Linked DNA regions of Homo sapiens. The protein of the gene in region 3 purifies or fractionates together with the protein of the main gene of each other region. This does not show direct contact. Each region holds a gene or a part of one and is shown on either strand. Other genes may lie near its edges. The genes, in order: CYTH1, ANKRD26, CCDC40 and HMMR.

Region 1 (7,804 bases), 1.3 Mb from region 3:
AAAATTTAATATGGACCCTAAAAAGGTAAGTGAGAAAGAAGCGGGAAGTGGTCCATATTAGATGGGGTTTTTTTATAGTGCTCAGATAGACCCTAAAAACGTTTTTTTCCAAGCGTTACAGTTCATGTTGCCGTTTTGTAGAGCAAATGTTATGCACTAAGCCCTTGTTCCTAAACTGTGACTCCCCGGCTTTATAGGTCACTTAGCAAGTATTTATTAAATATTCCAGTGCACCCACACCCATTTCTTCCTGTGCCCTTTCCCCTTCTTTTCAACTGTTTCCCAGCAAAGCATCATTGGCGTCTTTGTTGTCTTTTTCTAGGGGATCCAGTTCTTAATAGAGAACGACCTCCTGAAGAACACTTGTGAAGACATTGCCCAGTTCTTATATAAAGGCGAAGGGCTCAACAAGACAGCCATCGGCGACTACCTAGGGGAGAGGTAAGGCCTTGGGGATTATGCGCATGCTAGGGAAGGCTGTTCAGGAACGACACAAAGAAACAAACTCCCAAATACTCTGAAGTTCTTGGAGGGGTTTTTGCCTTAAAGCATCTGTAGCCCCACTGGAGTTGAGGGGAGGCTTTTCTGGGGAATAGTGATGGGTCTTTTCTGGGGGTCATGGAGACATCTTGCTTGTTCAGCCAGTCAGCAGAGCTAGCCAGTCTTCTTGCGGACAGTGTGCACAAGTGGCTGTCTGGGCAGGAGCCACAGGACCACAGGACGCAGTGTAGGAGACATGGCCTGGCTGGAGATTCTCAGTGTTGGTGCCTGACTCCTGCTTTCTCTCCCATTTTTTGTCTTTTCTCGATAGAGATGAGTTTAATATCCAGGTTCTTCATGCATTTGTGGAGCTGCATGAGTTCACTGATCTTAATCTCGTCCAGGCACTACGGTGAGTATTCTTGAGGTGAGCCCCTTTGGAAGGAGTGGGAGGCTAGCCTTTGATCATGAGTCTGTCCTGGGGGGCATTTTATTGAAATTATATCTTTGGGTATGATTTGAATATTTTGAAGTATTTTGGAGGGAAGAAATCTATTGGTCTCTGACTGGGAATGACTGGATGGTCAAGGGGAATTCAATTCTGTTACGTTCTGGAGGCCGATTCTGTAACACTCTTCCTTGAGTCTTATATTTGAGGTTTTAGAAATTGATGAATACTTAAATTTTGAAATTTTTCAGTTTAGAAAATCCTTTAATTTCTTGCCCTGGAATAAGTAGTTATACATTTCATTTTGGAAAGAAAAAAGTAAACCTTAATTTTTTATTAAATCTGTTACCTCATGCCTTTTAAGAAACTGTCATTCTGTATTTTCACTGCTGTAGGTGTAAATAATGACTTCATCTTTTGTGCTATCATTTAGCTGGATGGAAACAATCCACAATTAAACCTGTCAGCTGTGGGTCTTTCTTTCTTTGACTTAAAGGGATCGATTGTTAATGCTTTGACAAGACAATCTTCTCTTTTTCTGCCACCCATATTGTTTCCGGAAATAGCGTTTGTTTAAAATGAGCATTATCTATGTTTCAGTCTTGTATATTATTCTGAGGAGGGAAACCACTCCTCAGTAGGGATTGTTTCCCTCCTAATTTTTCACTTTTTCCTAAGAAAAATTTTACTTTTGATTAAGGTAACAGTGGTGTGGATGGCAACTTTGCATCTGTTCAGAGTTACAGTAACAGAAGGCTGCAGCCCAGCAGGGTTCCCTTTGCACTTTGATGTTAAAAAATCATTGGCAGTGGTCAGGCACCGTGGCTCACACCTGTACTCCCAGCACTTTGGGAGGCTGAGGCGGGTGGATCACTTGAGGCCAGGAGTTTGAGACCAGCCTGGCCAGCATGGTGAAACCCCGTCTCTACTAAAAATACAAAAAATTAGCCGGGCATGGTGGCGTGTGCCTGTAGTCCCGGCTACTCGGGAGGCTGAGGCAGAAGATTGCCTGAACCCGGCAGGCAGAGGTTGCAGTGAGCCAAGATCACGCCACTGCACTCCAGCCTGGGTGACAGAGTGAGACTCCATCTCAAAAAAAAAAAGAAAAAAAAAATCATTGGCAGTTTAACAATTCATAGAGAAATAAATTGCCTCCCCAAGTTCTGGAACACTCTGTCTTTACCCACTCAGGCAGTTCCTGTGGAGCTTCCGGCTACCCGGAGAGGCCCAGAAGATCGACCGGATGATGGAGGCGTTTGCCCAGCGATATTGTCAGTGCAATAATGGCGTGTTCCAGTCCACGGGTAAATACGATCATTCATCCTAGTTTATGATGGGCGTTTTACACTGGATTATTTTCTTGGCACCAGATAATTTCTAAAACAAAAGGGCTGAGATTCATGCCTAGGAACGTTTACTCAATGATAGTTATAATAGTAAAATGTTGGAAATAACCTGAAAGTCTGACATTAAGGCACTATGAATTTAAATTGTGGTACCTCTGAACTACGAAATACACAGCTATTAAAAACCATGTTTTAGCTGCATGCAGTGGCTCACACTGGTAATGTCAGCACCTTGGGTGGGAGGCCGAGGTGAGAGGATTGCTTGAGGCTAGGAGTTTGAGACCAGCCTGGGCAACATTATGAGACCCTTTCTCCAAAAAAATTTTTAAAAATTAGCCAGGTGTGGTGGCTTATGCCTGTAGTCCCGGCTATTTGTGAGGCTGAGGCAGGAGGATCTCTTGAGCCCAAGAGTTTACGACTACACGCAGTGAGCTATGATTGCACCACAGCACTCCAAGCCTGGGTGACAGAGTGAGACCCTGTCTCAAAACAAAAACTAAAGAAACCCATATTGTTACAAAGAATTTTTATTGACATAGGAGAATGATATTAAGATTAGCAAAAAAGCATGTGTATGTATTTGTTTGTTTCCAGTTTTGTTACAGTATATATCTGTGAGATAAATATGTGGTGAGTTATACATAGTCATATTTACGTAGAGGAAATAAAGCAAAATAAATTATTGCTAGATAGTGGGATTATGGGTCATTACAGGTCATTTTGTTTTAAACACATTGTGTTTTTCAGAGTTTCTACAGTGTGTGTATTCTCCTTTCCAATCTGAAAAAATAAACAGCTTTAAGTCTTGAATACTTTATATACTTTTTCGTGCCTTGCTCCTTTCAGACAGCAGTGTGCCCTGGAGTGTACCCGTACATGTGGATTCATCTCATTCTTTTGAGAACATGTTTTTTTTTTTTTTTCTGAGATGGAGTCTCACTCTGTCGCCCAGGCTGGAGTGCAGTGGCGCTATCTCGGCTCACTGCAAGCTCTGCCTCCCAGGTTCAAGCAATTCTCCTGCCTCGGCCTCCCAAGTTGCTGGGATTACAGGCGCGTGCAGCCACGCCTGGCTAATTTTTGTATTTTAGTAGAGACGGGTTTTCACCATGTGGGTCAGGCTAGGCTTGAACTCCTGACCTCATGATCTGCCTGCCTTGGCCTCCCAAAGTGCAGGGATTACAGGTGTAAGCCACTGCATCTGGCCGAGAACATGGTTTTTTATTCCTGATTTCATCTGATACCACTCTTGCTCTTGCGGGTGGGATGTTTCTGAACATCTGAGCATGCAACGGCTCCCCTTTGCTTTTCTCTCATCTTTAGATACTTGTTACGTCCTCTCCTTTGCCATCATCATGTTGAACACCAGTCTGCACAACCCCAATGTCAAAGATAAGCCCACTGTGGAGAGGTTCATTGCCATGAACCGAGGCATCAATGATGGGGGAGACCTGCCGGAGGAGCTCCTCCGGGTAAGCAAGGAAGAATGGTCTTCATTCAAGTCAAGAAAGAGTTCACTGGGAACAGGATCGTCTTTTGTAGGAAGGAAGAAAAAACATACAATTTATCAAGGGTCTCCTCTTTTAATTTGTTTAACCATGTGAATTTCATTAAGAAAGTGGTAGTAAGGCCCAGCTAGGGAATCAGGGAGGGGACAGTGGTTTGTAAACATGAAACTAAAAGCTTGAATAGAAGTCAGGCTGCTTCTTTATTTTCCTAATTGGGAAGGCTTATTTATTTTGTCACTGTGAGCTGCCTGAAAGCAGAAATGGTCATAATCTTCTAGTCTCAGCATCTAGCAGGCTTGGCTTACTATAGGCACATGAATGCTTGTGGAATGAATGAAGAGAAAGGGGAGGAGGAAAAAATATTTCTAGAATCAGAGACATAAATTGTCATCTTTTATCCCAGAATCTCTATGAGAGCATAAAAAATGAACCCTTTAAAATCCCAGAAGACGACGGGAATGACCTCACTCACACTTTCTTCAATCCAGACCGAGAAGGCTGGCTATTGAAACTCGGTAAGCGCACCTCTGAGTCAGGGCTCCTAAAGCTGAGACTTAGGAAGAAAGGCGGTGTGTGTGCGTGTGTGCGTGCGTGCGTGTGTGCGCGTGTGCGTGTTTGTGCGTGTGCATGTGTGCGCGTGCGTGTGTGTGCACGCGCATGCATGTTCACACACATTCATGGACACACACGCACCATGTAGGAAAGGGGGTGGCTTATAGAGGACTCCAGAGAGACTTTGGTATGAGTTCTGTTCTAACAAAGGTCGGCTTCCAAAAGGGAAGTGACTTCATAGTCATTGCCCCCATGGGACACAGAGACTACTGGGGACAGACTTACTCCACCATAAATATTGCCCACATGTGTCTGTGCTCCACATTTTTACCCTTGAATTGGTTGACCAGGTTTTGTTTCAAGGCAGTTCCCTGAGCACCTGGTCCGTTTGCCTTCCCTGTCCCCATAACCACTGGGAGGGTGGCCGACCTTGTCCATCTTTCTACTTCCCATCCCACAGATTTGTACCTGGCGCTCCTGCCCCCACCCCAGTGCATCGTCACTTCCTTCTGCATCTGGCTCCCCCACAGGCAGTGTGCATGGCAAGCCTAGAGCCCTTGGCTGCAGCTCAATCCACAGCACTCTTACTCATTCTTGGGCAGTGGTTTTTTTTTTTTCTTTTTTTTTTCCCCTCCTTTTCAATCTGAATCAGCCACATTAATTATTTTGTTCATTTAGAAAAGCTGAAAATGCATTTCTCTTCCCTTTGCCAGAAGTGATGAGCTTGTATTGCTGAGATTTGTGGTCATGCCTTGCCGTGAAGGTGACAGGGTAATCAATAGGAAAGACTTTAGTAGGGTTTTCATACACATTCATGTCCACATGTGTTTACTTTATTAATGGTTTCAGAACATAGAGCTCTAGACTCTCTGGACATAATGATGTCCTTTTTTTTTTTTTTTTTTTGGACACTAGCAGGGTACTTTCCTCTGTTGCCTTCTGCTTTAGCCTTTGATGAGTTGGGTTCTCACATTAGCAGGGGCTGTTCCGTCCTATACCAGCCCAACTGCTTGCCCCAGTGATTAGAAGTCAGTACTCTCTTGGTCATTACTGACACATCTGGGAAGGCTAAAATGGAATCCTTTATTTCTGACTAGGTCAGATAGCAGTAGACTTTATATTTCCTTTTAAAGTCATATCCCAAGTCCTTGTGCTTATACATAATGACTTAATTCATAAATTCCCCTTACAGCACCACTTCACCGATCAGTTTTAAATATCTCTTGAATTGGCCATCATTTTATATATCTTTAAGCCCCCAGAATCTTTGAAGTTAAGGCTCTAAAATTACTAACCCCATAGGCAGCCTTCCCTTCCACATTCCTATTGCCAAGTGGATGGAGTTGAAAGGAAACCTACTGGAAACGTTTAAAGTGTGTTCAAGTTTGGATTTACTTCCCCCTACAGCGAGATTTGTTTAAATGCTAATACTAAGTGTTAGCTTTGACAGCCCAGATACTAAAATTAGAACAGTACAAAGATTATCTTGGTTCTTAGACCAGGATGACATGCAAATTCATGAGGCATCTCGTATTTTAAAAAAGAGAAAATTTAACCAAGTGTGGGACTCAGTTTTAGCTCATTGCATTACTTTTTCTAAACCTCCATCAAATCCTTCTAGACTCTGAATATTGTGTTTTCATTGTAGCACACTTAGTATCACTCTTTGTGTTTATGTGCTGCAGAAGGCAGGGCTTCCAGCCGTCTGTAGCTGTGTGTATATGTCTGTGTATGCATATAGCCATAAGAATGTGTATTCTTGTGTATACACATCAGTACATGTGTACTCATGGGTATATGTGTGTGCATTCTTACACACACTTTAAAAAGTGACAGCCATCTCAAGAAAGACATTTAATTTTCCCTGAAATAACCTTAGCTTTCTTTGCTCTGATTCTGGATATACTAGTAAACATTGGCTTTGTAAAAGCCGATTTGTGGCATCTTTGGGGCCAGGTTTCCAGTAGTGCCTCAAATCTTGCCTTGATGAGGTGGAACGTGGCATGTAAGAGCCCCTCGTTCACGTGCCAGACAGTAGTGGGATCATTTGCCCGTTGAGTGTTTTTAGTTCAGCTCTCTCCCCAGGCAGGCATGAATGTGACTGATACATTGCACTTTAAGATTAAGGAATCGGGTTTAATTTCTTTGTTTTAATTTTCTTTTCTCCCTCATTTGTATGTTTCCATGATTTTGGCTCTCCTTTTCCTTGCCCCAAACTCCAGGAGGTATGTAACCCTCAGCCTGCTCGCTCGCTCTGCTAGGCCACTGTCATTACTGCAGCATTTTCTGATTTCGTTATTTTTGGTTATTTTGTTTTTTAATTGCCGGTGGTAGTGTTAATGCTGCTTCTAACTTATTGTACAGTCCCTAGGGAACTGGTCAGGATCAGGGGTTTGGAGCAATTTTCGTTTTTCTTTTTTGGAGGAGTATATGTTATATTCATTACTGAATGCAGTAATGCAAGAAAACATACTAAGAGTGGGTTTGTAAAAGCAGAGGAAGTTTCCATGACATTTTCACTTGGAATTATTGGCTAAGACATGCGCTATGTTTGATATTCAATTTGACGTCCATTAATCAGCCTGATTGAAAGTTAATCTCTGACGTGGGGAAGAGGAGAAAGAAGAGAAGGAAGTCTTTCTTTTTTCTTCTTTTTTCAAGCTGAGACTTACTCCAGAGAGAACAAAGTCTTGACTTCCCAAAGCTATGGAAAGCTTCTGATTTACCATGATGGAAAAGCAAACTAGGGAAAGAACTAAATTAGATGATACTTAAGACATTTGCCTTTGCACGAAAAGGGGAAATGGTATTTCCTAAACTCAAAATGATACCGAGTGAAGGTGAAAAAAACAAGTCCAAACCAAAAAACCCTCCCTGAAGTCCTCGTGTTTAGTTTCCTGGGGATCAGAGAAGGGTATTAACAGCCTCGGCTCTGTTGTTATGTTTTGTTTTGCTCCCTCGCTTTTTCAGCGAGTCCTCGTTAAAGCCCCGAATCGGTCTCCTGGTTATGGTTTTGGTGTCTCCTCTCCATTTGCTGGTTTTTTTGGGGAAACATATTTTCTTAGCCCAAGACCCCTCAGGTTTGTGCCTAAGCATTCCCTGAGCAGTAGCTACACTTAAAAAGAACAACCCCAAACACGCACAGTTACTGAGATGCTTCAGGGACTTGTCAGGTTGTTCTCAACTGTAGGGGAAGATGGCATCCGGCCTTGATGTCTCGGGGAGGTCACAGGAGGCCTGAGGAGCCGTGCAGTGGGAGGTGGTCCTGTGAGTTCCACAGGGACTGTCCTAGGCGCACATTGATCTGTCTGCTTGTTTCATGTCTGCTTTTCTTTCCACGTGGAAATGTTCCCCGTGGGCCCACAGTGATGCTTTATGGTAGAGGTCTCTGTAATGCAACAAATTGTCCAGGCATAATAACCAAGCTTTTGTAATCAGGCAGAGAATTTCTTCTGGCTTTGCTTTTTCTCCTT
Region 2 (8,299 bases), on a different chromosome or scaffold from region 3:
TGCATTCCCAGAGCATGCAGTTCCTTGAGTACCCTGAGCTTTGGCCCCAGCCAGTAACCCTTTTAACATGGACACCATGGTCTTCGTGAGCAGGCTTGTAACAACTTCCTGCCCTCAAGCCTTGTACTGCTGTGTGGGGAACTGGGCTTCCTGCCTCCTCACACCATCTATGCACGTATCAGATTGGGCCCCTGGTACTCCAGAAGGGCGTTTGCTGTTTGCTCGATGACTGTGGACCAGCTCTGGCCTTGGCAACCACACCTTCTCCAAGGACATCTGAATCCCCAGCCTTGTGAAGCCACTCATTTTAAGTTGTTCATACTTTGGGTGTAATCTCATCCTAAAGGATTCTTTAGATTTTTCTTTTCACTTTTATACTACTGTTACAGTTAATAATAATTTTTCTTTGAGATGCGGTCTTTTTTTTTTTTTTTGAGATGGAGTCTCACTCTGTTGCCAGGCTGGAGTGCAATGGCGCAATCTCAGCTCACTGCAACCTCTGACTCCCTGGTTCAAGCAATTCTCCTGCCTCAGCCTCCCGAGTAGCTGGGATTACAGGAATGCACCACCACACCCAGCTAATTTTTGTATTTTTAGTAGAGATGGGATTTCACCGTGTTGGCCAGGCTGGTCTCGAACTCCTGACCTCGTGATCCACCCACCTCGGTCTCCCAAAGTGCTGGGATTACAGGTGTGAGCCACTATGCCCGGCCCGAGATGGGTCTTGCTATATTCCCCAGGCTGGTCTCAAACTCCTGTGCTCAAGTGATCCTCCTGCCTTAGCCTCCCAAGAAGCTGGAACTACAGGTATGTGCCACTGAGCCTGGATAATTTTTTTTTTTTTTTTTTTTTTGAGATGGAGTCTTGCTATGTTACCCAGGCTGGAGTGCAGAGGCACGATCTCAGCTCCCTGCAACCTCTGCCTCCTGGGTTCAAGCGATCCTCCCACCTCAGCCTCCTGAATAGCTGGGATTACAGCCATGCAACACCATGCCTGGCTAATTTTTTTGTATTTTTAGTAGAGACAGGGTTTCACCATGTTTGCCAGGCTGGTGTTGAACTCCTAACCTCAAGTGATCCGCCCACCTCAGCCTCCCAAAGTGCTGGGATTACAGGCATGAGCCACCATGTCTGGGCATGGCTAATTTTTTTTTTTTTTTTTTTTTTTGAGACAGTCTTGCTCTGTCATCCAGGCTGGATGGAGTGCAATGGCACAATCTTGGCTCACTGCAACCTCCGCCTCCTGGATTCAAGTTATTCTCCTGCCTCAGCCTCCCGAGTAGCTGGGATTACAGGCGCCTGCCACCACACCTGGCTAATTTTTGTATTTTTAGTAGAGATGGGGTTTCACCATGTCGGCCAGGCTGCTCTCCAACTTCTGACCCCAAGTGATCCACCCACCTCGGTCTCCCAAGGTATGTAATCTCTGCTGGGATTACAGGTGTGAGACACCACGCCCGGCACTGGCCATGGGTAATTTTAAAACACTTTTTGGAGACATGTTCTGGCTATGCTGCCTAGGCTGGTCTCAAACCCCTGGCTTCAAGCCATCTTCATGCCTCAGCCTCCCAAGTAATTGGGATTACAGGCACAAGCTACCATGCCAAACTTCTATAGCAAATAATTATTTGTATTAAATTGTTCTTGTTCAGGTTACTAAGTGGTTTCTCTCCTGATTGAAACCTGGCAGACACATTATCTCTTTCTAGGATGTACTTTTTTTTTCTTTCCATCTTCTCCCCTCTCACAAACTCCTGTTTATTCTTTAAGTCTCAGCTTTTAAAATTTAATTTAATTTGATTTTAGAGACAGGGTCTTGCTGTGTTGCCCAGGCTGATCTCGAACTCCTGAGCTCAAGTGATCCGCCAGCCTCAGCCTTTCAAAGTGCTGGGATTACAGGTGTACACCACCATGCCCAGCCCTAAATTTCAGCTTTGACATCACTTCTTCATGTGCCTCTCTCCATGACCTACCACCCTTCTCTTGACATGATTCTATAGGCCCTCTGTGCTCCCCCTTAATGTGGCACTAAACATGAAATTTGCCTCCCTCCCTGAAGTGAAGAATAACACATCTGTTGTTTCCTCACTGACTCTCACAATACCTAGAATAAAGAAGGTTCCCAGAACATGTTTCTGTTTAATGTGGTGGCCTCCTTACTGTGATCATCCCAGGTCTTGGATCTCCAGGAGATACAGGTAGATGGGCCTCAACACACTTGAGCCCTTATGTTCTAATCATGGTTTAATTATAGTTTCATTATTCCTCAATAGACACAGCAGAATGCATGGGAAGACACATTTCAAAGAATGAATGAACCAGTTTTGGAAAAGGGTTTGATGAGTTTCTTGGTAACTCTTAAAAGGAGAAAACACGTGTGACAGCCTTGAACTGGAATTAAAGAGCTTTATCTGGCCAGGCACGGTGGCTCACGCCTGTAATCCCAGCATTTTGGGAGGCCAAGGCGGGCGGATCACGAGGTCAGGAGATTGAGACCATCCTGGCTAACACAGTGAAACCCCGTCTCTACTAAACAAAATACAAAAAGTAGCCGGGTGTGGTGGTGGGCGCCTGTAGTCCCAGCTACTCAGGAGGCTGAGGCAGGAGAATGGTGTGAACCAAGGAGGCGGAGCTTGCAGTGAGCCGAGATATCGTGCCACTGCACTCCAGCCTGGGAGACAGAGCGAGACTTCATCTCAAAAAAAAAAAAAAAAAGAGCTTTATCTAAGGGATTTGCTAAGGCATTCATATCTCAGTTGATTTTCACTATAAAACAAATATTCCCCTAACACATTAATTTCATTGACATAATTATTAAATGAGGGTATAGGAAAACTGAACCAGGGCATTACTTTAGCCTTAGATAGGCATGGGAGTTCCAAGTGACAACTTTCTAGAGGGTGTCTGCTCTGGATCTGAAATTAATTTCCATATGAATGGGAGATCTTAGCTTTCAATGAACTCCAAGAAACTTTTTGGGGATCCAGCATTTGGCTGATGAATTCAACACCTCAGAGCTGGCCTAACATATAGTCCTTGGGTATCTCTGGTCTATACAAAAACACTATAGTCAACCAAATCTCTACAACTTACCTGGAGAGTGGTGTGTGATTCCTATATCCATCCAGACTGGTAATGTCTTTGGCCTTAATTTCAGGCTGCATTAGGAAATGTCAGAGTCCTCTGTTCAGAGTCAGTGTTCTCCACACTTGAGTATTTTTTGTTTGTTTTTGTTTTTGTTTTTTGAGAGAGAGTCGTGGTCTCCATCCAAGAGTCTCCACTCCAGAGGCAGTGGTGTGAACCTCTGCCTCCCAGGTTCAAGTGTTTCTCCTGCCTCAGCCTCCCGAGTAGCTGGGACTACAGGCATGCACCACCACACCCAGCTAATTTTTGTATTTTTAGTAGAGACGGGGTTTCACCACGTTGGCCTGGTCTCGAACTCCTGACCTCAGGTAATCCACCCACCTCGGCCTCCTAAAGTGCTGGGACTTGACTAGCTTCATAGATCACCTTGGGGAGTGTTGAGGAGACAACATAACTTTCTAGCTGGGGTAGTGTAGGAGGAAAATTCTTGGTGACGATAGTGGAAACCACTCTCCCACATCAAAACCATTTGATCTAGCTAAGCTGGAGAGGCCTGAGAAGTGTTGTTTTGTTTTTGCTCATTTCTCACTTGGCAATAAAGACGCCTGTTCTGGGGCCAGCCACCTCCTCCACAAGGGACCCTAGAGCTGTCCAGAGCTATGGAGGTGCATTCCAGCAGCAATTTCTGCTGAGACTCCACTTGACGTCTGCGTTGCTAATTCCAATTTGTTGTCAAATTATTCAATCTAGGCTGGGCGTGGTGGTTCACACCTGTAATCCCAGCACTTTGGGAGGCTGAGATGGGAGCATCATTTGAGCCCTGGAGTCGGAGACCAGCCTGGGCAACATGGTGAGACCCTGTCTCTACAAAAAATGCAAAAATAGCCGGGCGTGGTGGCTTGCGTCTGTAGTCTCAGCTACTCACTCAGGAGGCTGAGGTGGGAGTATCGTTGAGCCCAGGAGGTGGAGACTGCAGTGAGCCGTGATTGCACCACTGCACTACAGTCTGGGCGACAAAGCGAGACTCTGTTGGGGAAAAAAAAAAAAAAAAGAAGAAAGAGATGTAACCTTGGAAAATCAAAAGCAAAAAATAAAACATAAGGCTGGGCCAAAGGCAGAGGGGTGGGGGAAGGAGGCATGCAGAAATGCGTTCTCATTTCTTCTGGAGAATGTGCATTGGTTTCTCCTCGTAAGTTTGCACTTGACACATATTGCCACGATCTCCGAAATCCTGTGCCCTCTGCACTTGACACATATGCCACGATCTCCGAAATCCTGTGCCCTCTGTTGTTGCATCTGTTAAGTTCTCATGGAGACCAGATGGCACCCAAAGGGACATGGAAGGGGAATAAACTGAGAGATAGGGAGATTCAGAGAGTTTCTTAGGGGAGTTTTCTCGGAGAAGAGGCTTTCAGCATCTTAAAACTCCACGCTACTCCAGTCCCAGTCATGCGTAAAGGCTGCTTCCCCACAGGCGCGAGGCTTCTTTTCGCAAACGTCCTGAACACTCAGCCAGACTCCCACCGACATTTGTTTGACAGGAACGCAGGGCTCGTCCCAGTCGCCGAGATTTGCGAGGTCTGGGCCTTGCACATGCGCATGGAGCACACTTGACCACTGGGCCTTCGTGCGCACGCGCGTGGACCTTGCCATCTGAGGTGCGCATGCGCACTTGTGTCTAGCGGGATCGCTTGCTTGGTAACCCGGAGGGAGAGATTGGAAACCGCGGAGTTTCCTTTGGGAGGCTGCGGCCAGCCGGGGCTGACTTGTTATGTTGGGCTCCGGAGGCCGTTAAGAGCCGAGAGAGACATGAGGTGTCTCTGAAGCCCGGTCGCCTGGGCCATGAAGAAGATTTTTAGTAAGAAGGGCGAGTCGCCCTTGGGCTCCTTCGCGCGGCGGCAGAGGAGCAGCGCGGGAGGCGGGGGCGAGCCGGGGGAGGGCGCCTACTCGCAGCCCGGCTACCACGTCCGAGACCGAGATCTCGGCAAGATCCACAAAGCTGCCAGCGCGGGTAATGTGGCGAAAGTGCAGCAGATCCTTTTGCTCAGGAAGAATGGCTTGAACGATAGAGACAAGATGAACAGGTAATAGGCGTCGCAAGCCCGGACTGAGTGCCACTGGAGTAGGCGGGCAGGAAGAGGGGCCCCTTTTGTGGGAGCCACCCAGGGCCTGGATCAGCCTCCCGCGGGCTCCGTAGCCCCTGGGACGGTGACACCTTGCAGGGCTCCAGCGCCCAGGCCGCCTTTCTGAGCAGAAAAACAAAAACAGAACTCTAGCTGGTTTCCGATCCCCCCGAAATCCCTTAGAGAGCACTTAAGTGACAATTTTAAAGTGAATTAACGAACAAAAGCACGTACAGCGTTTTATTTTTAATGTACACATTTAAGATACAATGTCATACACTTATGGAAAGGTGCATAATGAGATAAGCAGTTTCCATAATATAGCAACTTCTGGGTTAAAAATTATTTCTATAAAATCTGTTATTCGTCAGGCGCGGTGGCTCGCGCCTGTAATCACAGCACTTCGGGAGGCTGAGGCGGGAGGATTGCTTGAGGCCAGGAGTTCAAGGCCAGCCTGGGCATTATAGCGAGACCCCCCCCCCCAACTCTAATAGTCTCAGCTACTTGGAAGGCTGAGGCAGGAGCATCACTTGAGCCCAGGAGTTCTAGGCTGCAGTGAGGTATGTCAGTGACAACAGAGCAAGACCCTATCTTTCAAAAAGAAAAAGAAATAAAATGCCTTTAGGAAATAGATATACAAGTAATTTGTTTTTCTCAGCATTGCTTAAGCAGTGTATTAAGGAGAACCCATAGAATGGATTTTGTGAATAAATGTCAGTGCATGATAATATGTGACCATTGAAAGTGGCAGTAGAGGCCAGGCGTGGTGGCTCGCGCCTGTAAACCCAGCATTTTAGGAGACCAAGGCAAGCGGATATCCTGAGGTCAGAAGTTCGAGACCAGCTTGGCCAACATGGTGAAACCCCGTCTCTACTAAAAATACAAAAATTAGCTAGGCATGGTGGTGGGAGCCTGTAATCTCAGCTACTCCGAAGACTGAGGCAGGAGAATCGCTTGAACCTGGGAGGCAGAGGTTGCAGTGAGCCAAGATCGTGCCATTGCACTCCAGCCTGGGCAACAAGAGCAAAACTCTGTCTCAAAAAAAAGAAAGAAAGAAAAGAAAGTGGCAATAGATACAGAAGTGTATTGGCATGTGAGGATATACTTTGGTATCTCAAGTGAGAAAAAAAGTTTGATTATACATACAGACTGTGGTCTTGTGTTAGCTGAAAATATGTACAAAACGTGGTAAAATTTGGCCAGGCGCGGTGTCTCACGCCTGTAATCCCAGCACTTCGGGAGGCCGAGGCGGGCGGATCACGAGGTCAGGAGATCGAGACCATCCTGGCTAACACAGTGAAACCCCGTTTCTACTAAAAATACAAAAAAATCAGCCGGGCATGGTGGCGGGCGCCTGTAGTCCCAGCTACTCCGGAGGCTGAGGCAGGAGAATGGCGTGAACCCGGGAGGCGGAGCTTGCAGTGAGCGGAGATCACGCCACTGCACTCCAGCCTGGGCGACAGAGCAAGACTCCGTCTCAAAAAAAAAAAAAAGTGGTAAAATTTGTTATTTCTGGGCATTTGTATAATAAGTCAAACTTTTTTCTTTATGATTTCTGCAATGAGTATGTATAAAAGTTCTAGTGAAAATTTATTATTAATGAAGTAATCCTTGGGAAGAGAGGAATATGAATCTTGCACAGATAAAAATCATTTCCCACTTTCTTTTTTTTCTTTTTTTGGTGGATTGCTATCGTCTGACAACTTTTATCCTTTTCAGAAGTAAAGGGGATCTTGGCTGGGCACCTGTGGCTCATGACTGTAATCCCAGCACTTTGGGAGGCCCAGGCAGGAGGATTGCTTGACCCAGGAGTTCGAAACTAGCCTGGGCAACATAGCAAGACCCTGTCTCTATTAAAAATGAAAGGTAAAGCAGATCTTTGTTCTTGCCACCAAAAATTAAGAAGATAAAAAATAAAAATAAAAAAAGAAAAAGTAAAGGGTATCTTTTTATCTGTATTTATAGATTTTATGTATACATTTTATCATATACATGTTTTTATTATAGATTTATTATATATGCAAACAGGTACAATCATTTTATTTTAGTTGTGTCCTTATGACAATAAAAATACCAAATATAAATGATAATTAGGCTGGATGCAATGGCTTAGGCCTGTAATCCCAGCACTTTGGGAGGCTGAGGAGGGTGGATCACTTAAGTCCAGGAATTCAAGACCATCCTGGCCAACGTAGTGAAACCCTTCTGTAGTAAAAATACAAATATTAGCCAGGTGTGGTGGTACACACCTGTAGTCTCAGGTACTTGGGAGACTGAGGCAGGCAGTAGAATAGCGTGCACCTGGGAGGCGGAGGGTACAGTGAGCTGAGATTGCACCACTGCAATCCACCCTGGGTGACAGAGCGAGACTCCATCTCAAAAAAACAAAACAAAACAAAACAAAAAAAAGATAAATATTATTGCAAAAGAATAAAAGAATTACTCTACTTTATAAGAATTTTATTTAAAAATATTGAACTCCCTAATGATTTTTCCATTCTTTCAATCCATTTATTCATCAATCATAACCTGAATACCTGTTATGTAGCAGACATAGTCTACTATCTCTTTTTTCTTTTTTTCTTAGACAGAGTCTCCCTCTGTTGCCCAGGCTGGAGTGCAGTGGCCAGATCTCAGCTTTACTGCAACCTCTGCTTCCTGGGTTCAAGCGATTCTCCTGCCTCAGTCTCCTGAGTAGCTGGGACAGCTAATTTTTTTTTTTTTTTGTATTTCTAGTAGAGACAGGGTTTCACTGTGTTAGCCAGGGTGGTCTCGATCTCCTGACCTTGTGATCTGCCCACCTCGGCCTCCCAAAGTGCTGAGATTACAGGCTTGAGCCACCGCGCCTGGCCTTTTTTGTTTTTGAGGTGAAGTCTCGCTTCTTCGCCCAGGCTGGAGTGCAATGGTGTGATCTCGGCTCAATGCAACATCCATCTCCTGGGTTCAAGCAATTCTCCTGCCTCAGCCTCCCTAGTAGCTGAGATTCCAGGCACGTGCCACCATGCCTGGCTAATTTTTGTATTTTTAGTATAGATGGGGTTCTACCCTGTTGGCCAGGCTGGTCTCAAACTCCTAACCTCAAGTGATCTGCC
Region 3 (7,740 bases):
CCACATCTCAGCGTCTGCAGCCCATACAGGCAAGCAGACACATGTATCACCTTCCAACGCCTGCACAGACTCACCGCCCAAGGCTCAGCAACAGAAGGGCAGGCCATTCCGACTGGACAGTGGATTTGGATTATTTCTCTTTTCTTTCTGTTATTCATGTGTCAGAAGCCACCACGGGCAGAAATCGAACTTAGTCTTACAGTGGCCCGATTTCTCTCATCCTTTGAGGATGGTTATGTAAGTTCCGAAGACAGAGTAAAGAACGTATTTCAAATCAGATGCCACCAGACAGCTCATAAAAGCAGATTTATTAGAGATGCAACATCAGGTGCTCAAAGGACAGATAGGATAAAAACACCAACAAAGCCAACAGGATAAAAAACACTGCCGCTGAGGTGAACGGAAAAAGGCCTCCAACATCATTGCCCCATATTTTTGGGAAGGGTGCAAATGTGTGCTCTCTCCTGTGCACTGGCCTCATTAACAGCAATATAATGCAAATGCAATACAAATGGTGTACAATTCGATCATAAAATCATCCTCTGCGCTGTCACCTTCACATCCCAGAGCCACCCGCCCCCGGTGCTTAATGCTGGATGAAACAAAGTAGCTAATCTTACAAGAGAATTTAGGCCTGTGACAAAAATCAGGGTCCCTCAGCCAGGGAAGAAGGGGAGCTAAAATTTTCACAGGAGGTGGTGTTGCCAGGCAACCTGATCAGCTCTGCTCCCCATAGCATCCTGCAGGGACCCAGCCCCCGGTCAAGTTGTAAAGATAAGGGTACACATACGCACAAATAGTAAATCCTACATCTGCCTGGAATCACTTTCCACCTCATGGACCACACAAAGGGGAGTGAGGAGTCAAAGCACAAAAACAAAATGTTTTGTGTCAATCTAGTTAAATGTGGAAAATCCAAATAACGGTCATTAATAACAGTGTTAAAATGTTACCATTTGACATTACTTACCACATCCTAAATGGTAACTCAGGATGTGTCAGGAATTCAATGCTTTTCATAATCCTTGCACAAAGTCTCTGAAGTAGGTAGTATAGATGGGGAAATTAAGGCACTGGAGAATTAACTAAGTGCCAGAGGAGTTGGGGTTTTTGTTGTTGTTTTGTTGTTGTTGTTGTTTGGGTTTTTTAGGTTTTTTTTTTAAGCAGAGTCTCACTCTGTCACCCAGGCTAGAATGCAGAGGCTGGTCATGGCTCACTGCAGCCCTGACCTCCCGGGCTCAAGCTATCCTCCCACCTCAGCCACCCAAATAGCTGGGACCATAGGTGCCCACCAGCATGTCCAGCTAATTTGTTCATTTTTTGTAGCGATAGGGTCTCTCTAGGTTGCCTAAGGTGGTCTTGAACTTCTGGGCTCAAGTGATTCTCCCAAAATACAGGATTATAGGTGTGAGCTACTATGCCCAGTCCAGGATTTGTATTTGAAGCCAGCAGTCCATCTTTCTACGCCATGTTCTTAACCACTGCACCTTATTACCCAAAACTGTGGACAGAGACCAGTGCAATTGTAGGTAGGTTCTGCAAACTCAATGGCTTTATCCTGAAGCCTGGGGGATGCTTTCCATACTGAAGTGAACTGAGATTAGCAGCTAGTGGTGACATGGGATTAGTCCCACCTCCTTGCACTGTTATGAACCACTTGGAAGAATGTTTGTATATGAATGGTGGGCACCCTCTGTAAGACAGAGGGCAAAGTTGTACAACGGTTTTCTGGAGCTGGGACGTCCTGGGCCTAAGGCCTAATTCTGTCACTCCTAACTGCATGAGCTTGGGAAGTTACTTCTCTAAGCGTCAGTGTTCCCATCTGTAAATGGGCATAACTGCAGTCCTGACTTCATGAGCTTGTTTTGTGGGTTAAGTGAATTCATGCATGATAATTAGGAACTACTAACGCAATCACCAAAATTGCTAGAGGATTAAATAATTCCACAGATAAAAACTTTTTTTTTCCTTTTTTTTTTTTTTTTTGAGACATAGAATGTTGCTCTATCACCCGGGCTGGGGTGCAGTTGCACATCTTGGCTCACTGCAACCTTCGCCTCCCGAGCTCAAGCGATTCCCCTGTCTCAGCCTCCTGAGTACTGGGATTACAGGCTCACGCCACCACACCGGGCTAATTTTTGTATTTTTAGTAGATATGGGGGGTTTCACCATATTGGCCAGGCTGGTCTCGAACTCCTGACCTCAGGTGATCCGCTCGCCTCGTCCTCCCAAAGTGCTGGGATTACAGCCGTGAGCCACGGCGCCCAGCCATAAAAACTTTCGCCATAAAAACTTTCGTTAGCCATAGTCTCACCATAAACATGCCACTTACAAAAAAATATGCGCACAATAACCACGCTCAGGATGCAAACAACATCCATTAATGAACTTTGTAGTTAATACCAAAAGTTACTCCTCACTTTATTCTTTATTTACAAAAGCTTTCATGGTTCTTAAAAGTGTTTAGTATTCACCAATTTTACTGTTAGCGTTTCTAATGAGGATTTTCTAAAACTGAGGCATGGATTTGAAAAAGTGTTCTGATCAATCAGTAACAGATTTGGAATGGAATCTCCAGCCCCCAGTCTTTGCGCCCACCCTCTGGCAATATGCCGCCTCACGTGAGCATCTTTAAGACGGAGTTCCCTTTTTATTCCAGATAAAAGAATTAGGAGCCTTCTGGTAGAAAAGAAAGCAGATCTTCAGGATCAAGTCGCAGAGGCTGGCCAATCAGCCCAGCTTCTCATTTGAACTTGACCCAGACAGTAAAACAAACTTTACCATAAGGCGAGACTAACTTTTGTTATGTCTTTTCTATTCATTTCCTATTTCTGAATCAAATCTGAACTACTTTGTGGCCAATATACGACACCAGCTTCCGAGTGTGGGAATCACAGGATTTCAGGATTCAGCGGCTTCCGGCAGGATCCCCTAGGTTATGTTTAGCAATCTTCAGTTGCCTTTCCTTTTTTTCTTTCCTTCCTTTCGTTCTTTCTTTCTTTTTCTTTTTTTTTTTTTCCCAAAGGAAAGAACAAGGGAGCCCAGGCGGAACGGAAGTGAGTATCCCGACACGCGGATCTTAAACAGCCCAGACCACCAAGCCCGACAGGCCGGGAAAGCTGAGCGCGCGCTGCTGGGGGGACGCACACTTTGGAGGCTGTGTGGGCGCGCGCCGGCACCCCACAAGTTCTCATCCGTCTGCTCCGCCGATTCAGCCAGACAAAGACCGCAAGTTCCCCGGTCCACCGCTCCAGACAGGCGGGGACCAGTCTCCCCGAATTAGGCCCATTCCGGGCCCGGGCGCCCTCACTCGCCGCGGGGAAAAGTCCCCAGGTGCCCCTCCGTGATCCAGGTCCTCCCACAACGCTCCCGCTCCTGCTGGCGCCCCGCACCCCGAGGACGGCGGCCGGACCCCGGCCCCTCCCCGGTCCCGCGGCTGCAGGCCCACGCGCCCCACGCGCCCCGCGCGCCCCCGCCCCAGCTCCGCCGAGGGGGCGCTGCTCGCTGCGCGGTGGACCCCTCGGACCCCGCCCCCGCGGCCCCGTCCGGGCCCCGATACCCACCCGGGTCCCGCTGCGGGGGCCGGATTCGCGCCGGCTCCGAGAGCCGCCACCGTCGCCTCCGCCGCTGCCGCCGCCAGTGAGGCGCGGCGGGGCGGGGACGCGCGGGGAGGCCCGGCCCCCGGCCCGCCCCCGGGCCCGCCCCCGGCCCGGCCCCTGCCTGCCCCCGCCGGTCTCCCCGCCCACCTTCTGGCCCAGCCCTGGGCCCAAGCCTCTAGTTCCCTGCTGGCCCTCCCTCAGGCCTCGCCGCGTCCCGGCCTCGGGGACTGTGCCCCGTCCCGAGCCTGGCGTCCCCAAAGGAAAGGCAGGGCTCCTCGGACGCTCCGCGTGCGCGCTGGCCCTCCGCTGCCGCCCTCTGCAGGGAGATTTCTCCTATTTCGGACTAGGAAGGGAAGATACGCTCCGGAAGACCCCCCGGGCGTCCATGCAAGGAGTCTCCGTAGGACCCCTGGAGAAGGGCACCGGAGCCCCCTAGGGCAGGAGATGGAAAAGCGCTCGCCATGCGCGGGGTCCCCGGCCCCCGGTGCCCCCAGCCCGCCTGCCATTCCCGGGCGCTTAGCAGTCCGGGGTCCCCAGGTGCCCGGCAGGTCCCTTCGGGACCTCGAGCCGCCCGCTGGGCACACGCTGACGCCGCTGTCGCTTTACAGAAATTGAGCGCAGCCGAGGCGGGACCCGGGCGCAGAGAGCGATAAAGGAAAAGCATGGTCGTGCTCTAATCATTACAGTCTAAGGGACGACACGTCGAGACGGCGCGCGCCTCTGCGTGCGTGGAGATGGCACAAAGGCCGCGCCGCCCCCGGCGGCCCCCGCCCTCGCAGCGCGCGTGGTCCCGGCCCGGCCGGATGTTGACAGCGTCGCCTAGCAACGGGAAATGGCGGAACCGGGCGGCGCGGCGGGCCGGTAAGCCGGGCCGAGGGGCAGCGGGTCTTGGAGTCGCCAGGCCGCGCTCTCCGTTCACCGCTCCAGGTGGCCCCCGCGTCGGCTCCTGCCTCGCCCCTTCGCCTCCACTCCCCCTTCCTCTCGCCTGTGTCCCTTCTCTCGCCATTTTGCTGGCCTTTCCCGTCCACTGCGTTCAGCCCCTCACCCCCCCGCCAACCCTTCTCACTTCTCCCCTCCTGTCCCTTTGTCCTCTCTCGGCCTCCCTCTTTCCCCTACTCCAAGCGCGCGACTCCCTCTAAAACCCGGGACCGCTCACTCTGCAGTCACCATGGCAACCACTCTGCGTGGCGGTCCCTGCGCGCAGTCCTCCTAAGAGTAGAGGGCTCTGCAGGGCGCGGGGCTGTTGGATACCGCCCCTGACCTTGCTCCGGGGCCACTCGCTGTGGCCGGAGACCAGCCCGGCCCCGCGCCTCCCTCCTGCAAGGACAGATCCCCTCTCGCAGGCTTGGGGGTGACCCGCGATGGGAGGGGTCCCTGCGGTTAGGCGGCCCGCGATAGTCCGCGGTCACCGTCCTGGGGCCTGGGTGGAAGCACTGAGCGCGCACAGGGAGGGCGGCTGAGTGAAGATCCCTGCCACCGGGCCTCTGCTCGCTTAGGCTCTGTTTAAAAGGATAGAAACGATTGGAAAGAGTTTGGCCTTTTTACCTTAGACACATCGGTATTGTTTCATTTTTTTAAAGGTGGGTCTGTATGTATTGACATGGAAAGACTAAAGGTATTATTAATAAAACGATAGGCATAAATGTAAAAGGGTAGGTATACTATGATCTCTAATTCAGGGTGTGTGTGTGTGTTTAAAACATAGAAAAATGTTGAAAGAATGTGGTCCTAAATGTTATCAATGATTATCTTGGGAAGGAAAGGGAAGATCACAGGGAACTGTCACTGTCTGTCTCTTTGAACATATCTATATTCCTTTGACAGATAAAAATAGCTTGAATCTTTAATTTTTTAAAAAAGATATACATATATATATATATATATATATATTCCTGTGCTACGTAAATCGTGGAGAAACTCAGAGTCCCCAGAACACTTACTCTGATCGCGCTACTTTCTCTACGTTGTATTTCTTTTCCCCAGTTTTGTCCCAGACACAAGTTATATTTGAGGTGACTTTTCTGGGGTGATCTAATCCTGCTGTTCCTTCGATGTTTTAATAATTATATTTTTCATTCATTCATGGAGCTTTGCTTTTGTGGCATCTCCGCCACCTGACAGGCATGATATAGTGCTATGGTTCCTGACAAACAGGACAAAGACGTGACAACAGCCTGGGGGTGGCAGAGAAGTAACAAGTAAATAAACAGATGTGCAGAATTCAGGAGGGGATAAGGACCAAGAAAAAGAAAGCTGTTGCTTGAAACTGTTCAATTGTTTCTCTAAAACCAGGTCCCATCCGGAAGATGGATCGGCTTCTGAGGGAGAGAAGGAAGGGAATAATGAAAGCCACATGGTAAAATTCCCTATGGGCAGTTATTCCGGGCTTATATTTACTAGGAATTAAAGAGAATCAGAGTACGGGCACTGTGGCTCACGCCTGTAATCCCAACACTTTGGGAGGCCAAGGCAGGTGGATCACATGAGGTTAGGAGTTTGAGACAAGCCTGGCCAACATGGTAAAACCCCATCTCTACTAAAAATATAAAAATTAGCCGGGCGTGGTGGTGCGCACATGTAGTCCCAGCTACTCGGGAGGCTGAGGCAGGACAGTGGCTTGAACTCGGGAGACAGAGGTTGCAGTGAGCCAAGATCACACCATTGCACTCCAGCCTGGGTGACCAGTGAAACTCTATCTCAAAAATAAATAAATAGGCCGGGCACGGTGACTCACGCCTGTAATTCCAGCACTTTGGGAGGCCGAGGCAGGCAGATCACGAGGTCAAAAGATCGAGACTATCCTGGCCAACATGGTGAAACCCTGTCTCTACTAAAAATACAAAAATTTGCCAGGCATGGTGGTTCACGCCTGTAGTCCCAGCTACTCGGGAGGCTGAGGCAGGAGAATGGCTTGAACCTGGGAGATGGAGGTTGCAGTGAGCCGAGATTGTGCCACTGCACTCAGCCTGGCGACAGAGCGAGACTCCATCTCAAAAAATAGATAAATAAAATTAAATTAAAAATAAATAAATAAAGAGAATTAGGACTTGGTCAAGTATATTGTATGATGACATTATCTTGCACCAGAACAAACTCAATTCAGTTGAAGAGAGACTCATTTTCTTCCTACCCCATTCTACAGTGTCAGTGATTAGTCAGGGATGCAAAGGATGTCCAACTTTGGGTTGCCCTGAGTTTTTCGGAACTCATTTCCTGTAACAAAGGATGCAAAAATGATTATGAAAAGCAGAGAGGGCCAGGCATGGTGGCTCACGCCTGTGGTCCCGGCACTTTGGGAGGCTGAGGCGGATGGATCTCTTGAGGCCAGGAATTCAAGACCAGCCTGGCCAACATGGTGAAACCCCATCCCTACTAAAAATGGAAAAATTAACTGGGCATGGTGGTACACACCTGTAGTCCCAGCTACTTGGGAGGCTGAAGCAGGAGAATCGCTTGAACCCAGGAGGTGGAAGTTGCAGTGAGCCGAGATCACGCCACCGCACTCCAGCCTGGGCAGCAGAGTGAGCCCCTGTCACAAAAAAAAATAAAAAAAGAAAGAACAGATAAACTGAAGCATGAAACATGATTTTTTTTTTTTTTGAGACAGAGTCTCACTCTGTCTCCAGGCTGAAGTTCAGTGGCACGATCTCAGCTCACTGCAACCTCTGCCTTCCGAGTTTAAGCAATTCTCCTGCCCCAGCCTTCTAAGTAGCTGGGATTACAGGTGTGCACCACCATACCCAGCTAATTTTTGTATTTTTAGTAGAGACGGGGTTTCACCATGTTGGTCAGGATGGTCTCAATCTCCTGACCTCGTGATCTGCCTGCCTCAGCCTCCCAAAGTGAAACATGATCTCTTAGTGATGCTGAGAAGGGTATAAATGCAGTTTTCCCATTGATATAATTACACTATAAAGAATAAAACCTCACAAGGTCCTTTATACTTTGTTTCCTGATTTTTTTCCTGCCACACCTTTACAGGTGTCACCACCAGAGAAGGATGATGGCCAGAAAGGTGAAGAAGCTGTCGGTAGCACAGAGCATCCTGAGGAAGTCACAACCCAAGCGGAAGCTGCAATTGAAGAGGGGGAGGTGGAGACAGAAGGGGAAGCAGCAGTGGAAGGGGAAGAGGAGGCTGTGT
Region 4 (7,804 bases), on a different chromosome or scaffold from region 3:
GAACAGCAAGGTTTTTCATATCCCTGCTTTTGGGGGAACAATACAAAATTGTAATTAGGGGTGTTGTTCTATACTACAGCCAATCTCAGGGAACAGGAATCTTGGGAAAATAAGATAATGTCATTTTAAGAGAGGAAAGAAAATTGAGATAATTTTTTATTCCAACTCAAAAAACTGTGGTCCAATGGTCAAGAGATAAGGATTTTTATTACTAATTCTGTTAGCTAGCTGGTTGATTCTGAGCAAAACAATCTTAGTTTCTTTGATCTTCTACTTCATTAGATATAAAAGAGTTTTATTAGATGGTCTCTAAGATCCCTTCTAGCCTGGAAATTTCAAGCTTAAGAGAAAAACAAACTAAGAATTGAAAATAATTCCTCTAGGGGACAGGGAAGAAAATATTTTTATTATAAACTCTTTAGTCATATTTGATTGCTCTTGCTGTGGTGTGTATATTTTTGAAATCCGGCACTTGTTACAGAATGAATTTGATCAGCTATTTTTCTTATCTCAGTGTCCAACTTAGTCTATAAGTACACAATGCTTATTTACAATTTTTAGTTCTGTATATTCTTTAAAAGATCTCTCATAAGCTCATATGCATATCTAAAAATTTTATCACCACTTTGGAAATATATTATTTCCAAAATATCCCTGAGATTTAATAGCATATGTATATAAAAATGACTTAAAACCCATTCTGTCTATGCAAAATAATCCATTAAAGAAGTTATTAAGTCTTTCAGTAATAGAGTATTATGTGGGTTATTCATATAATCAGAATAAATCCACAAAGTCTTGTAACTCTGTAGTTTAAAATGAAGTGGCTTTAATTGTTCATGGTATTTCTCAAGTGTCTAAATGGAGAGAATGAAACTTTATTCAATCCAGATGTTTTTTGACTGGTAATCTTTTGCAGTCTTTAGTCCTGGCTAGTATCTTAAGATTTGGTTTTATAGTCTTTTATATCCTACTACCTTCTTCACCCAAATTTTTAAAGTAAAATAAGCAGGAAAGATAAGTTGAAGCTAGTAGAAAAATGCATAAAAAACATGCTTTCGAGGTAAGTCATAAATTAGGATCTGAGCTATTTAGCAGGTAATGCAGTGGTGAAGATATGAGCTATATGATTCACAGTTTCAAAGGTAAATACTATTTTCTTTCTTAGGGTAGTAATTGTAGGTGGCATTTTATCTTTCAATTATTTCTTTTTCTTAGGAAGGAGGCTGAACTGGAGAAAAGTAGTGCTGCTCATACCCAGGCCACCCTGCTTTTGCAGGAAAAGTATGACAGTATGGTGCAAAGCCTTGAAGATGTTACTGCTCAATTTGAAAGGTATTTTTCTTGGGAGCCTGCACTCTTAAATATGATGTGTGCAGAAAGGGGTGTTTACCCCAGGAAATATGTGAGCAAAGCAGTCACACAAAGGATGATTCATACTAGTTTAAATTCCATAATCACCAACCGTAAGTGGGCATTTAGCATTATCTGGTAATCTTATTGTATTTATATAATTCCCCTTTATAATTTATAGAAATTCCCCTTTCTCACCATCCACTTCAACTTTTATGTGCTGAGCCAGGTGCGGCAGCATATGCCTGTAGTCCTAGCCACTGCATAAGCTGAGGTGGGAGGATCAAGTCATGTACTTAGAAGCATTTGGTGCTTCTGCCCTACTCTCTTGATGTTATCATTTTCATAAAGAATTCAGAAGTTTTTATCTCTTGCTAAACCTATAAAGAGACCCACATTTATACTCATCCTATCTTCCCACCTATTACAGATGAAATGTCCTAGTCTTTTAATCTTCAGTGACCTCATTCTATCATTTTGTTTTCTCATAATTTGAAACCTTTTTACTGGAATTTTTCCAATCAATATTAAAACATGTTAATGTACATCTGTCTGTAAAATATATTAATTAGCTGGCCACTGTGGCTCATACCAGTAATCCCAGTGCTTTGGGAGACCAAGGCAGGAGGATTGCTTGAGGTCAGGAGTTTGAGACCAGCCTGGGCAATAGAGTAAGACCTTGTTTCTACAAAAAAAAATATTAAGAATTAGCCAGGCATTGTGGCACATGCTACTTGGGAGGCTGAGGGCAGGAGGATCACCTGAGCCCAGGAGTTCCAGGCTGCACTGAGCTAAGATCACACCACTGCGCTCCAGCCTGGGTGACAGAGCAAGACTGTCTCAAAAACAAACGAAAAATAAATAAAATACATAAGTTGTTTTAAATACTTCTCTGACCCTAACTTCCTTTTGTAGCTGTCTCACACCACCAGTCATTCCCTTCTTAACCCCAAATTCTACTCCTTTTCAGTCCTTTTCCTTCTCCTCCTTTTTCTTCTCTTGACAGAGAAGATTGTCTCTATATCCACTTCCTCACCTCCCATGCCTTCTACTTATTTTCTCCTTAAATAAAAAGTTTATTTTGGGTGGAACTACAAATTACAAAGGCCAATATAATGAATACCTATATATTAATGTTAACATTTTTATTTATCACATTTACTTTAGCTCATTTTGGGGGAGAGTTTCCTTTCTTTTATTTAATAAATACAAAAGAATGCATAACATGTACATAAACTGTAGAGCTTGAAGATAAAACTGACATGCATGAACCTATAAAAGACAACCAGTAAGCCAAAAGATTTTCAACAACTTAGTATCCATATGTAAGTTCCTCTGCCATCCCATGAAAATGGGACAGATAACACTGTCCTGAAGTCTACACTAATTATTTCCTTGCTTTTTCCCCCCTGTGTATTATAATTTTATGACACGTATATCCATACAAATAATGCATTATGTAATTTTCCTTCTCCTTGAACTTTACCAAAAAATGTCATCATAGTATATGCCGTTTCCTGGGACTTATTTTTTCATTCTGCATTATGTGTGTTTTCAGGATTGAATTGTGTTGTCTGAGGCTATGGTTTGTTGATAGTCACTGCTATGAGTATTTTATTGTATGAATATACCACAACTTATTTATTCATTCTTTGGACTTTGAGTTGTTTCCCATTTGGTTAGTTATTATTAGTTATTTTGTGACTATAAGAATACATGTATGTAAGAATTTCTCTAAAGCCAAAGGTATATGAATGTTCAACTCTAAAACTTAATATCAAATCACTTTCCAATGTGGGAGTAAGAATCTACACTCCCACTAGTGTTGTATAAGTTTCCATTTATCTTCTTTGCCAAAGCTTGTTAGACTTCTTAAACTTTGCCAGTGTACTTAGTGTAAAATGGCTTCTTATTGTGGATAATTCATCTTTCCTTTTCCATAAAATGCTTGTTTATGACTTTTGTTTATTTGTCTATAGGGTTATCATCTTTTCCTCATTGATTTGTAGAGGTTTTCTTTATCAGCCATATGGGTTACAGGTATCTTCTGCCAGTTTAGCTTATTTTTTTATTTTCTTTTTGGTTTCTTCTGATGAGTGGAAATTCTTGATTTCAATATGGTTAAAATATTTATCTGTATGTGGGTACTTTTGCTTCTCATTTAAGAACTTCTTTCTATCTCAAGGTGTAAAGATATTCAACCAGTTTTCTTCTAAAAGTCTTAAAATTTCACTTTCCATTTTTCCACCTAGAACTGATTTCTGTGTGTGTAGCAATATAGGGATCAAATTCATTTTTTGTTTTCCCTATGGACAACCAACTGCCTAGTTTAATTTAATTCATTAAATTGTACCTTGTTTCCCCAGTGATCTGTTCCCACATGTGATACATTATGACAGACACATAGATAAATAATTTATAAGTGTATATGTTTTATTTATAATTTTTATTGTATCAGAACATATAAATCATATAAATATATGTAAATTTTATATATATATATTTATTGCTAATATCAATCCTGTAAAGGAATTTCCCTTCTCGTTAGTTTGAAGAATAGTGCTTCAGGGGGTTTTTATCTATTCTGTGATTTTAGTCACTATCCATATACTCGTGGCATTAAAATTTATTTCATCAAACCAGACCTTTCTTTACAGCTCCATATTCACATATCCAGTTACCCACTTGACATCTTCAAGTAGATATCACACTGTCTTTTAATATTAACCTGTCCAAACCAACTCTTGATCCTTCCATTGCTTTCTACCCCTAGTCTCTCATTGTTTTTATTGTAATCAGTGACATCATCTTCCCAGCTTTTCATTCTGTAAATCTTAGAGTCATCCTTCATCATTCTCTCTTCCTTACCCCCAATATTCAGTCTATCTCTTGAATTTTCCTACTCTGCTTCCAAAAGAGATCTTGTGTCTTTCCATTGCCAGCTCCTTAGTCTAAGCCTCCTTTATCACTCACCTGGGCTGATAAATAATTGTTTTGGAGTTGATCCTTCAATTTTCCATTCTTTTCCCCTGCCCTAATCCATCTTCCTCATAGCTCTAGAGTGAGCTACACATTTAATTAAACACCTTTTTATTTTATTTATTTGTTTATTTTGAGTCGGAGTTTCGCTCTTGTTGCCCAGGCTGGAGTGCAATGGCACTATCTCAGGTCACTGCAACCTCCCCCTCCCAGGTTCAAGTGATTCTCCTGCCTCAGCCTCCCGAGTAGCTGAGATTACAGGTGTCCACCACCACGCTTGGCTAATTTTTTGTGTTTTTAGTAGTGATGGGGTTTCACCATGTTGGTCATGCTGGTCTCGAACTCCTGACCTCAGGTGATCCACCCGTCTCGGCCTCCCAGAGTGCTGGGATTACAGGCATGAGCCACCACGCCCAGCCTACTTGGACACCTTTAATGGTTCCCGTCTGTCCGCCAGGTAAGCCCACTGTGCCCTGCGGTGATGACCCTCATGCCACCAGCTTCTGCTCCAGCCTTTCTTACTCATTAGGCTCTAGTCTCACTTCTTATTTTTTAAATTGTGAGTAATTTTCATGCTTGGTAGTTGATTTCTTTTCCATCTCTGTATGCATACTTCCTGCACCTAGTAGGCACTTGATTTTTTTTTCTTTGAATACACAGCAGATGCCATGTAAACTCATTAGTACTTGCCTCAGAACACTGAATTCTTACCTGTGTTAAATGCATGAATACATTAAAAACTTTTTAGTTTTACTTAGAAGTATATAAAGTGTAAACTAATCAGTTATGATTGTCATACGCAATAGTTAGAAAACTACTTTGACTTTTTTTTCTTTTTAATAAGCTATAAAGCGTTAACAGCCAGTGAGATAGAAGATCTTAAGCTGGAGAACTCATCATTACAGGAAAAAGCGGCCAAGGCTGGGAAAAATGCAGAGGATGTTCAGCATCAGATTTTGGCAACTGAGAGCTCAAATCAAGAATATGTAAGGTATATAGAGCAAATAATGGCCTTAGAACCATTAAGACAATTTAATGTTGAAAGCCAGCTAGTAACTGTCCCTTGGCTTGCTTTTGGCCATCTTATACTGCAAATTAAGAATTTACTCAGTTAAAAAATGACACTTCTTGAAGAGTTCCTTGAGGTTTAAAGAAAAAAAAAGGAAAAATTAATGAAAGTGGCTATAAAATGTTTAGTGACCTCTTCTCTCTCAAACCAAAGGATGCTTCTAGATCTGCAGACCAAGTCAGCACTAAAGGAAACAGAAATTAAAGAAATCACAGTTTCTTTTCTTCAAAAAATAACTGATTTGCAGAACCAACTCAAGCAACAGGAGGAAGACTTTAGAAAACAGCTGGAAGATGAAGAAGGAAGGTAATCTATGATTAGAACCTGAGTGCCTTGTTAACTCAGTTACGATGTGATTTTTTAAATAACTATGTTTTTCTCAATTTAATTCTTCCATGCAGAAAAGCTGAAAAAGAAAATACAACAGCAGAATTAACTGAAGAAATTAACAAGTGGCGTCTCCTCTATGAAGAACTATATAATAAAACAAAACCTTTTCAGGTTTGTCAGTTAGGAGTAAACTTACTTGTGTTTATTTTAGGGACTCACTTTGTTCCCTATTATAGTGAGGACAGTGACTCGGGTTTTCTGCAAGATCATTTTGCTCTGCACTTACAGTGCCAATTTAGCTCACTATTAAAGGTTTATACATTTTATTAAATTATGCATAATTTTTTCCCACATTATTGAAGTATAATTGACAAATTTAATTGACATAATTTTTTCAATGGACCCTTTGTGGTTTAAAAAAAAACTTTGTAATGTGGAACTTAAAAGTTTGGCTCAGAGGGCTTGCCTGGTATGAGCTTTTGATAATTAACCTATTTTAATTTGTGGTATGACTTATTGCAAATACTCATTGTTTCTCAATATACTGATCTTTTAAAAGAAAAAAGAATAAATGCTGATTTTGGAACTTAGAAGTACAGTATTGGTTATAATGTGGTAATCTAACTGATACAGATAAAACTGGCCAGCTGGCTTTTTTACCTTGTTTCTTTTCCTCTGTTTTAATGATCTTTAAAATGAAAAATACAAAGTTTAAAAGATTCTCATAGAGAATCTATGGAGAGCCCTGAGAATATGTGAACATACCTTGTTTTCATTTGTGTTTTTAATTTTCTTTAGTGTTTATGGTTTATATGAAACTAGTAAGATCAAACTGTTTTAAGTCTTAACTTTATTTAAAAAATCTTTTTCAGCTACAACTAGATGCTTTTGAAGTAGAAAAACAGGCATTGTTGAATGAACATGGTGCAGCTCAGGAACAGCTAAATAAAATAAGAGATTCATATGCTAAATTATTGGGTCATCAGAATTTGAAACAAAAAATCAAGCATGTTGTGAAGTTGAAAGATGAAAATAGCCAACTCAAATCGGTTTGTAAAATGACTTTTCATTTTATTAAAGATATTGGAGTGGGGGTTATTCTAACTATAATACTTAAATAAAATGAATATCTTTGGTATCAGAAAAAAATAACTGTTTATAGAGGAAAATTGAGCTGTGATTTAGTGGATTTATTTTAGAGTGTTGACCAGATGGGCATTCAATGTTCTAAAGTTTTCTAGCTACCTTCTTAATATATTGAAAATTACTTGAGTAATTGGATGAATTCATTAAGCTTTACATATCTATTTCCATTTGCAAAACTGCAAACTCCTTGATGTAAAACCATAAAGAGAAGCAGTGTTCAAAAATATTTGGGCATTTAAATTTTTTAACATATGTATTGAGATATAATTGACAACCCATACAATCCACCCATTGAAAGTGGACAATTCAGTGTTTTTTAGTATACTCACAGATTTGTGCAACCATCACCATAGTCAATTTTAGGACATTTTCATCACCTCAAAATGAAACCTTGTTATCCTTTTCCTAACACTCTCCTATCTCCTCACCCCACCCCACCCTTCAGCCCTAAGAAACCACTAATCTACTTTCTGTCTCTGTTGATTTCCCTATTGTGGACCTGGCATATTCATGGATTCAAATAATATGTGGCCTTTTGTTACTGGCTTCTTTCAGTCAATTAGCATAATATTTTCAAGATTCACCTGTGTTGTAGCATGGAGAGTACTTTATTTTTTTTATAGCCTAATAATTCATTATGTGGGTATACCACATTTTATTTATTCGTTTGTCAGTTGATAAACACTTGTTTGCACATTTTTGGCTATTATGAATAATGCTACCATAAACATTCATGTACAAGTTTTTGTATGGACATTTGTTTTTTCCTGGGACATATTATTTCCCTGGGAAATAATAGGAGGGAAATTGCCAGATCATTTGATAACTCTACATTTAATCATTTCAGGAAGTATCAGACTACATTCAGATGAGATCGGGTGCGTTCAGGGTGGTATGGCCATAGAAAGGTCAGGCTGTATTCAAAAG

The links.
Region 1: the proteins of CCDC40 (region 3) and CYTH1 purify together in Homo sapiens (affinity purification with mass spectrometry; 2 studies listed by BioGRID and IntAct, with this or other methods). This does not show direct contact.
Region 2: the proteins of CCDC40 (region 3) and ANKRD26 purify together in Homo sapiens (affinity purification with mass spectrometry; 2 studies listed by BioGRID and IntAct, with this or other methods). This does not show direct contact.
Region 4: the proteins of CCDC40 (region 3) and HMMR purify together in Homo sapiens (affinity purification with mass spectrometry; 2 studies listed by BioGRID and IntAct, with this or other methods). This does not show direct contact.

The regions. Positions count from the first base shown.
Region 1 is NC_000017.11:78,694,759-78,702,562, reverse strand, and holds part of CYTH1 (cytohesin-1), read left to right. Parts: coding exon 1-25; intron 26-322; coding exon 323-441; intron 442-811; coding exon 812-892; intron 893-2,119; coding exon 2,120-2,232; intron 2,233-3,594; coding exon 3,595-3,743; intron 3,744-4,182; coding exon 4,183-4,294; coding exon of another isoform or gene 4,295-4,295; intron 4,296-6,553; coding exon 6,554-6,556; intron 6,557-7,804. UniProt on the Homo sapiens protein: Promotes guanine-nucleotide exchange on ARF1, ARF5 and ARF6. Promotes the activation of ARF factors through replacement of GDP with GTP.
Region 2 is NC_000010.11:27,096,954-27,105,252, reverse strand, and holds the start of ANKRD26 (ankyrin repeat domain-containing protein 26), read left to right. Parts: upstream 1-4,758; 5' UTR 4,759-4,926; coding exon 4,927-5,168; intron 5,169-8,299. UniProt on the Homo sapiens protein: Acts as a regulator of adipogenesis. Involved in the regulation of the feeding behavior.
Region 3 is NC_000017.11:80,032,232-80,039,971, forward strand, and holds the start of CCDC40 (coiled-coil domain-containing protein 40), read left to right. Parts: upstream 1-4,410; 5' UTR 4,411-4,431; coding exon 4,432-4,460; intron 4,461-5,891; coding exon 5,892-5,955; intron 5,956-7,580; coding exon 7,581-7,740. UniProt on the Homo sapiens protein: Required for assembly of dynein regulatory complex (DRC) and inner dynein arm (IDA) complexes, which are responsible for ciliary beat regulation, thereby playing a central role in motility in cilia and flagella.
Region 4 is NC_000005.10:163,477,466-163,485,269, forward strand, and holds part of HMMR (hyaluronan mediated motility receptor), read left to right. Parts: intron 1-1,218; coding exon 1,219-1,335; intron 1,336-5,138; exon of another isoform or gene 5,139-5,176; coding exon 5,177-5,323; exon of another isoform or gene 5,324-5,554; coding exon 5,555-5,707; exon of another isoform or gene 5,708-5,802; coding exon 5,803-5,902; intron 5,903-6,603; coding exon 6,604-6,780; intron 6,781-7,804. UniProt on the Homo sapiens protein: Receptor for hyaluronic acid (HA). Involved in cell motility. When hyaluronan binds to HMMR, the phosphorylation of a number of proteins, including PTK2/FAK1 occurs.